Regions from separate parts of the Homo sapiens genome. Here region 2 is linked to region 1. The links come from fine-mapping of genetic effects on gene expression. Tissue or cell type: monocytes. Region 1 holds a variant in brackets; the other region holds the start of a gene. All regions are shown on one strand. Distances are between the middles of the regions.

Region 1 (4,242 bases):
TCTCCTCTGTAGGGCTCCTAACATCCTGCTGAGTTTTTTTCTGTGCTGCCTGTCTTAAAATCATCCTCGTCTTCCACCCTCTTCTTAAGGTCCCAGGGCCTTCACAAAACCTCTCTCTCAAGTTCTCATTCTTTTATTTGCCATTGCCTGTCCATTTCATATGCTTCAGACTCCACTTTTTATTCCCAAAGAAGACTACTAAGGTATTTTCATGAAGAATCATTTTTCTACTTTAGAGAAAAATTTTGCAACTCCCTTAGAAGGCAGAATTAACTTAGGAAGTTGTGATTTTTGAATAGCAATTATGGCTGGGCACGGCAGCTCATGCCTCTAATCCTAGCACTTTGGGAGGCTGAGGTGGGAGGATCACTTTAGGCCAGGAGTTCAAGACCAGCCTGGGTATCACAGCAAGACCCTTTTCTCTACAAAGAATTTTAAAATTAGCCAAATGTGGTGCTGCACACCTGTGATCCCAGCTATCTGGAGGCTGAGGCGGGAGGATTGATGAAGCCCAGGAGTTCCACGCTGCAGTGAGCTAGGATCGTGCCACTGCACTCCAGCCTGGGTGACAGAGAGAGACCCTGTCTCTAAAAAATAAACAAAAATAAAATAAATAGCAATTATCTTACTTCTCTGTATATATTCTTAGAATGTTTTTGTTTAGTGAGGAAAAAAGCATCATTAGTAATTTCCATTGCTTTATCCAATTTATCTAAAACCAATTTGCTGATATGACTCTGTTATAACAGCTATTTTCCAAAATATTCTCAGGTTTATATTTTTGATACCATGGGATCCATTATCCAAGAAATTGGATATTTTAGATAATCAAACACTCTGATTATCTAAATCATCTGAGCATTATTAAAAACACTACATATGAATTACTGAGTTTCAAAGAAGTAATATAAAACAGTAGTAGAGTTTCCCACCTGGTACAATGGAGGCATGGTGGGAAATATTGATGGATAAGACATGTAACCCTACGAAGCCTCACTTTCCCCTCTGTTCAAAGATTTGCTTCACAGGCTTTGCAAGGAAAAACAGAATTTTTTTTTTTTTTTTTTGAGACAGAGTCTCGCTCTGTCACCAGGCTGGAATGCAGGGGCACCATCTCGGTTCGGCTCACTGCAACCTCTGCCTCCCAGGTTCAAGCGATTGTCCTGCCTCAGCCTCCCGAGTAGCTGGGACTACAAGCACACACCACCACACCCAGCTAATTTTTGTATTTTTGGTAGAGACGGGGTTTCACCATGTTGGCCAGGATGGTCTCGATCTCCTGACCTTGTGATCCGCCCACCTCGGCCTCCCAAAGTGCTGGAATTACAGGCATGAGCCACCGCGCCCGGCCAGAAATGATTTTTATAGAAAGTTCCTGGCATACCACAAATATTGGATAAATATGAGTTTGGTGACTTTTCTCCTTTTTGTCCCCTCCTCAAGAATGAACTATTAATATTACTACATTTGGCCAGGCGCAGTGGCTCACGCCTGTAATCCCAGCACTTTAGGAGGCCAAGGTGGATGGATTACCTGAAGTCAGGAGTTTGAGACCAGCCTGGCCAACATGGCAAAACCCTCTCTCTACCAAAAATACAAAAATTCACCGGGCGTGGTGGCAAGTGTCTGTAATCCCAGCTACTCAGGAGGCTGAGACAGGAGAATAGCTTGAACCCAGGAAGCAGAGTTTGCAGTAAGCCAAGATCATGCTACTGCACTCCAGCCTGCGTGACAAAGCAAGACTCTGACTCAA[A/C]AAAAAAAAAAATTACTACATCTTACAATACACTTCCCTCTTTTGTTGATGATTCTGAAGGTACTTCACAATCTTGCAGTGGCTTACAGCTCCCATATGAATATTAGTTATTACTGTTATGTGCTGAGTATTAGAATACTAGACAATAGTATTTACTATATATAATTAGCTCATGAGAGAAATCTAATTATAAAACCCATAACTACTAATTTGCAACATTGCTATTATTTTTGTTATTCAAATTCATTTCATTAGCTACTTTTGCCCTCACAAGTCAAATAAGACTCATTCTACATTGCCTTATTCAAGAAGTTTTGCCCATCAAAAAGTGTCAGACTTCTGGTTAACGTCCAAGTAGAAGATTTTTGGCCACACGCAGTGCCTCACACCTGTCATCCCAACACTTTGCGAGGCCAAGCGGGAAAATCACTTGAGTCCAAAAGTTCAAGACCAGGCTGGGCAACATAGTGAGACCCCATCTCTACAAAACAAACAAACAAAAAAATTATCCGGCCTGGTAGTGTGCACCTGTAGTCCCAACTCCTTGGGAGGCTGAGGCAGGAGGAGTCCTTGAGCCCAGGAGGTTGAGGCTGAGTGAGCTGTAATCACTCCACTGCACTCCAGCCTGGGTGACAGAGTGAGATCCTATCTCAGAAAAAAAAAATAGATTTTTAACTACCTAATTATTGAACAATTGTCAAAATGTCCCAACATTTACTTCTTTTCACATTTATTTCATTTCATCCATATATTTCTATTTTTGATGCTCAGATTCATCTGATCTTAATTCCTCATTAAAACATAAAAGTATAGACCTTAGAAAAATATTTGATTTGCAGAAATATTTTGCTTACTGCTGTTAAAATATTATCATTTGGACTAGAAGTATCACTATGTAAAAAATTACTCTTTAAATTTTTACATTTAACCTTTTCTTTTGCTTTTTCTTGTTGTTATTTTCACTGTTTCTCACTCCACAGGTCATTATGGATCTGATCAACTCTACTGATTACCTGATCAATGCCTCTACTTTAGTAAGAAACAGCACTCAGTTTCTAGCTCCTGCATCAAAAATGATTATTGCCCTTTCTTTGTACATTTCATCTATAATTGGTACCATCACCAATGGCCTCTATCTATGGGTGCTAAGATTCAAGATGAAACAGACTGTCAATACTCTCTTATTTTTTCATCTCATTCTCTCTTATTTTATTTCAACAATGATTCTGCCATTTATGGCCACCTCCCAACTTCAAGACAATCACTGGAACTTTGGAACTGCCTTGTGCAAGGTCTTCAATGGCACTTTGTCTCTGGGGATGTTCACCTCTGTTTTCTTCCTTTCGGCCATCGGTCTTGATCGTTACCTTCTCACTCTTCACCCAGTGTGGTCCCAGCAGCACCGAACCCCGCGCTGGGCTTCCAGCATTGTCCTGGGAGTCTGGATTTCAGCCGCTGCCCTCAGCATCCCCTATTTGATTTTCAGAGAGACACATCATGACCGTAAAGGAAAGGTGACTTGCCAAAATAACTATGCTGTGTCTACTAACTGGGAAAGCAAGGAGATGCAAGCATCAAGGCAGTGGATTCATGTGGCCTGTTTCATCAGCCGCTTCTTGCTGGGCTTTCTTCTGCCTTTCTTCATCATCATCTTTTGTTATGAAAGAGTAGCCAGCAAGGTGAAAGAGAGGAGCCTGTTTAAATCCAGCAAGCCCTTCAAAGTTATGATGACTGCCATTATCTCTTTCTTTGTGTGTTGGATGCCCTACCATATACACCAGGGCTTACTTCTCACTACGAACCAGTCACTACTTTTAGAGTTGACTTTGATACTTACAGTGCTAACCACTTCTTTCAATACTATCTTTTCTCCCACACTCTACTTATTTGTTGGGGAGAATTTCAAAAAGGTCTTCAAGAAGTCCATTCTTGCTCTGTTTGAGTCAACATTTAGTGAAGATTCTTCTGTAGAAAGGACACAAACCTAAACTCAGAAGCCTAAATTTAAATTCTAGATTCTTAAGCAAACACGCACTTGGTCAATTATACCAATAGGATATACCTTCTGCTTTTGTATGCTATAGTCCCTATATTAGAGAGATAACTAGGCTGTACTATAGTTAGATTTCTGAGCAATAAAAGGGCTGCAAGAAAACAAGCAATTTGCAAGATCATGCTGCAAATGTGATTCTTTTCTTTTCTTTTCTTTTCTTTGAGGCAGAGTCTCACTCTGTCGTCCAGGCTGGAGTTCAGTGTGCAATCTAGGTTCACTGCAAACTCCACCTCCCAGGTTCAAGTGATTCTTATGCCTCAGCCTCCCAAGTAGCTGGGACTACAGGTGTACACCACCATGCCCAGCTAATTTTTTTATTTTTTATTTTATTTTTTTTATGAGAAGGAGTTTCGCTCTGTCACCCAGGCTAGAGTGCAGTGGTGCGATCTCGGCTTACTGCAAGCTCCACCTTCCGGATTCAAGCCATTCTCCTGCC
Region 2 (4,242 bases), 64 kb after region 1:
CAAAAACAAACAAACAAAATTAGCCAGGCACAGTGGCACACCCATTGTCCCTGCTACTTGAGTGGCTGAGGTGGGAGAATCACCTGAGCCTAGGAGGTTGAGCCTGCAGTGAGCTGTGATCAGACTACTGCACTCCAGCCTGGGTGACAGAGTGAGACCTTGTCTTCTTGTCTCAAAAAAAAAAAAATTACACACACACACACACACACACAACACAGAAGCTAGAATGAATATGAGACCTTGTCTTCTTGTCTTAAAAAAAAATTGAACACACACACACACACACACACACACACACACACACATATCACAGAAGATAGAATGAATGGGGCCCCTACCCACCAAACTTGGGATAATTGAGCATCAAAATAAATAATGATAGAGACAGAATATTGGCTGGTGTGGTGGTGTGCATGCCTGCAGTCTCAGCTACTTACCTGGGAGGCTGAGGCAGAAGGATCACATGAGCCCAGAAGTTCAAGGCTGTAGTGTGCACCATGATTGCATTATCGACCTGTGAATAGCCACTGCACTCCGGCCTGGGCAACAAAGGAGGCCCTGTCTCAAGAAAAAAAAAAAAAAAAAGAGAGAGAGAAAAGAGAGAAAGAAACGGATTATAAGTCATTTAACAAAATAGAAACCTCTGGATCCATACTAATTAATATAAATACATTAACTGAAGATTTGATGAGAAACAAGATATTTACAAATATCTTGAAAGGAGAGTTTCAGAGTCTCCCTCACAAAATACTTATTAATTTACAAAGGGGGGAAAAAAGTAACCACACTGGACAAGCCTAACAGACATCACCTTATTAAAGTAAACATCTGTAATGAGAGAAGTTAAAATCGTGCCACCTGATAGGGTGCCATGAGAAGAAAGCAGCAACACTTCTAGAGTCCTGTCATACCTAGCTAAATGTAATCATGAGTAAATATCAGACAGACCCAAAATGAAGGCCATTCTACAAAAATAACTGGCCAGGAATCTTTAACAGCGTCAAGAATATGAAAGGCAAGGCAAGACTGAGAGTTCCAGTTTGAAGAGTAGGAAAGATACATGATAAGTAAATACAATGCCTGATTCTGAACGGAATCTTTTACCATAAACAATATTATTGGGACAATTGGTAAAACGCCGAGTTATGTAAATGTTTTGATTTTGATGGTTATATTGTGATTATGTAGAAGGTGCTTAGGGACAATGTGGCATGGTGTCAGCAATTTAAATCTCAATTCAGGGAAAAAAAGTTCTTTGTACTATACTTGCAACCTTTTTGTAAGCTGGAGATAGATTCAAAATGAAACTTGAAAAATGACATTTAAAACGCTGAGTGTAGTGGGAAAACGCACATGACTCAAGGTAAGAGGCTATTAGTCTCAGTTCTGCCATTGACTTAGTATGTGACCTTGAGCAAGTCACTTTACCTCAGTCCTCACAGTCAAGGCTCTCTAGGGTCCCTTCCACGTCTAACATCTACCCCCACAGCACTGGCCCCGCCTGAATTTCTCCAGGCCCTTTAGGTGTCCCAGAGCTGCACCCAAAGACTCTGGCTTACGATAAAAACAGACAAAAATAGTTGTGGCCGGAATCTCCGGACTGAAAAACCGCTGTCCTAATCCTAACTTGGGCCGCAGTCTCCATCGCTCTTTCGACGGTGAAGCAGTCACGCCTGCCAGAGTGGGCGCTCGATGGCTCGGCGGCCAGCTGGCGGGGCCTTGGACCAGCGGCCCGGCGCAGGGCGCGCTCCCAATCGCTAGCTCCCGCGGTGCTCGCCGCTGAGAGCTTTCCGGCCACGCCCCACGCGCGCCCCGCCCACCTCAATGCCTCGCTGTCGCCGCCGCCGGCAATTCCAGACTCTGCTAGGGTTAGCAGAGCAGCCGGTAACGTTGCTGGACCGGGACGCACGCTCAGCTGAGGAGGACCCCCAAAGGCAGGCAGTCGGGGATCCAGGGAGCGGGGACACCTCCGGGCGCGAGGGGGCTGTGTCTGGGCTGCCTGTTGGCTGGGAAGGAGAACGCACCAGGGCCGCTGTATGAGTTGAGCGCTCGGGGATCCCGAGGGTGGTCGCGGCAGCAATGTGATCGCGAAAGAAGCCGGTGGGAGAACCGGTCGAGGGGCTAGGTGTCTTGACCCTAAGGGCTGGAGTCCGCCGAGAAGGGGCTGACTGGGGCACAGGGTCGGCTGATAAACAGCGTGGTCCGTTCTTCCTCCTGGACTACGGGAAAGTCTGGCTTCACCTGTGCACAACAGGTAGGCGTGGACTCTGCCCGCCAGCGGGAGCCGGGGTTGCCGGGCGTGTGGGGAAGGTCAGCAAGTCGGAGCCCGCCTCGCCAACTCGCCGCTCCCGGGACCCGCCCTGCGGCGTCCGCTGCGCCAGTGGTCAGCCAGGAGCCGGGCCCCGGCCCGGCCTTCGGGCGAGCTTCCTCAGAGGCCCGTTCGTTTTCTGCAGGAACCCTCAAAGAGAGTTCCCAGAAGGGAGCAGTGGAGAGTGTGGATATTTGCTTTCTAACTGTTGCAGTTCTCTCCAGGAAAGAAAGCTTTTCCTTTGGTGGCATTTGCTTAGTGTGAGGAAACATTTTCTTTCACCCTACTCTCGGCCAACGCGGCGTTATTTCAAGTGATTATAAAGTCTTTAGAAACTTTATAAAGCGTTTTATAGTGTTTATTTATCACAGTAATGGATACCTCTGGCAAGTTGGGATAATTTTCTTGACTGTCAAGTCAGATAATAATAAAATGGCTTGAGCTCCTACATTAAAGGTCATAGTTATCCATTGTTTTTATGTGCATTCATTTATTGAACAAATATGCAGCACTTTTTTGGGGCTAGGCGCCCTTAAGGAATTTACAGCCTGAAAGATATTAGAAGTTTAAGGAGGAAAAAAAGGGGCCCACAAGTACACTTAAGAACTTCCAGAGAAAATACTCCCAGTGAAATTACTTAAGCTGTAGGGAAAGCAGAAGTGTGGTTAGAATTGAGCATTAGTTGGATGGGGAGAGGAGAATTTTGTTTAATTTTCCAAACATTTTAGAAAGTATGTCTTTGAGAAAGTAATTTTAGATAAAGTATCGAAGCCGAGATTTGTGTTACATTTTAATGCCATTGACTTTTTTTTTTTCTTCACTGATAAGCAGGCAGGATTTATAATATAAGAATAGTGACAGTTGGAGAATACTGTAGTATGGATTTGTTGTGCCTTGGAATGCAGTTGTTTTACCTAGATGACTATAGAATAGGAGAATAAGAAAAGACTCCTCACCTGAAAGTCAGGAGACCTGAATTCTAGCTTAAGTTCCCTCCACTATTTATGGATGTTAGATTAGGTCACTTTTTTAGTATTATTCATTATTGTATCTGACTTTAGTCACAGAAAATACATGACTCCAAAGTACCTTTTTAATTCTTAAATTATTAATTAAAATTAACTACATTAAACTAATGAATATATTATCTACAGAAAAAAATTATTTTTTTACTTGTCTTTAACCAATACACTTACCTTTCTTCTTGCTTTGTTTCAAAAAGGTTGAGGTAGTTTATAATAGTCTTTCTTAACTATGAATAACATAAGGGTTAAATTCTGAATTTTTTAAATTCTAAAATTATTCTGAATTAAGCGTTTAATGACATCTGCATTTTTTTAAAAAGCTCTATTGAGTCTTGTGTGGTTCATTAATTATCCCATAGTATAATTGAAGAGTTTGAACAATCCTTTAATGAGACCACAGTCCTCATATAAATAACACTTCTGCTTTTTCAGGAGACATTGAGAAACTGTTATTAAATCTCATTTGAGAAATCAATTAACTGGGGCCAAAAAACTTAGTAAAGACTTGCCTGTGTCACTTAATTAGATCCCTTGTCTAGTTCTAGTGTTAAATTTTTGAATTAAAATAGTGCTCAGCAATCTACAGCCTGTGGGTCAAATCTGCTCTGCTGGCAGTTTTATAAAAGTTTTATTGAACACAACAATGCTCCTTCGTTATGGCTGTGCATGTTTTGTTTTTGAGTAGTTGTGATAGAGACCGTATGGCTCCCAAAGCCTAGAGTATTGTCTGGTCCTTTACAGAAAAAAATTAGTGGACCCCTGAACTAGAGCTCTTAAGTGCTTAATCACTAAATCTTTTGTAGGAGGAAATAGATTAAATTCAGTTTTAATTCTTCTGTTTGTTTGTTTGTTTTTGTTTTTATCGAGACAGGGTCTGGCTCTGTAGCCCAGGCTGGAGTGCAGTGGCGC

Direction of the effects. Alleles are on the strand shown, and positions count from the first base shown. SD is a standard deviation of normalised expression in the study named.
For the expression in monocytes of the gene that starts at base 1,856 in region 2, C is the high allele of the variant in region 1 and A is the other (large effect, 1.6 SD a copy in Quach 2016).

Evidence for each region. PIP is the estimated chance that this variant, and not a neighbour inherited with it, causes the effect.
Region 2: it holds the start of HEATR5A, and the variant in region 1 is fine-mapped to the expression of HEATR5A in monocytes (Quach 2016, PIP 0.95).

Annotation. Positions count from the first base shown.
Region 1 is chr14:31,482,463-31,486,704 of GRCh38, reverse strand. GPR33 (G protein-coupled receptor 33) reads left to right here. Exons shown (of 2, transcript NM_001197184.3): 2 at 2,734-3,830. The coding sequence starts at 2,740. The coding sequence ends at 3,741. Among named protein-coding and RNA genes, the nearest start is that of GPR33, 3.5 kb to the left of the region's middle. The variant A/C (reference allele first, on the strand shown) is at 1,754.
Region 2 is chr14:31,418,164-31,422,405 of GRCh38, reverse strand. It overlaps HEATR5A (HEAT repeat containing 5A), which reads left to right and starts at 1,856. Exons shown (of 36, transcript NM_015473.4): 1 at 1,856-1,934. It overlaps HEATR5A-DT (HEATR5A divergent transcript), which reads right to left and starts at 1,648. Exons shown (of 4, transcript NR_110045.1): 1 at 1,429-1,648; 2 at 438-562. RefSeq lists enhancers at 1,536-1,685, 2,116-2,165 and a silencer at 2,276-2,395.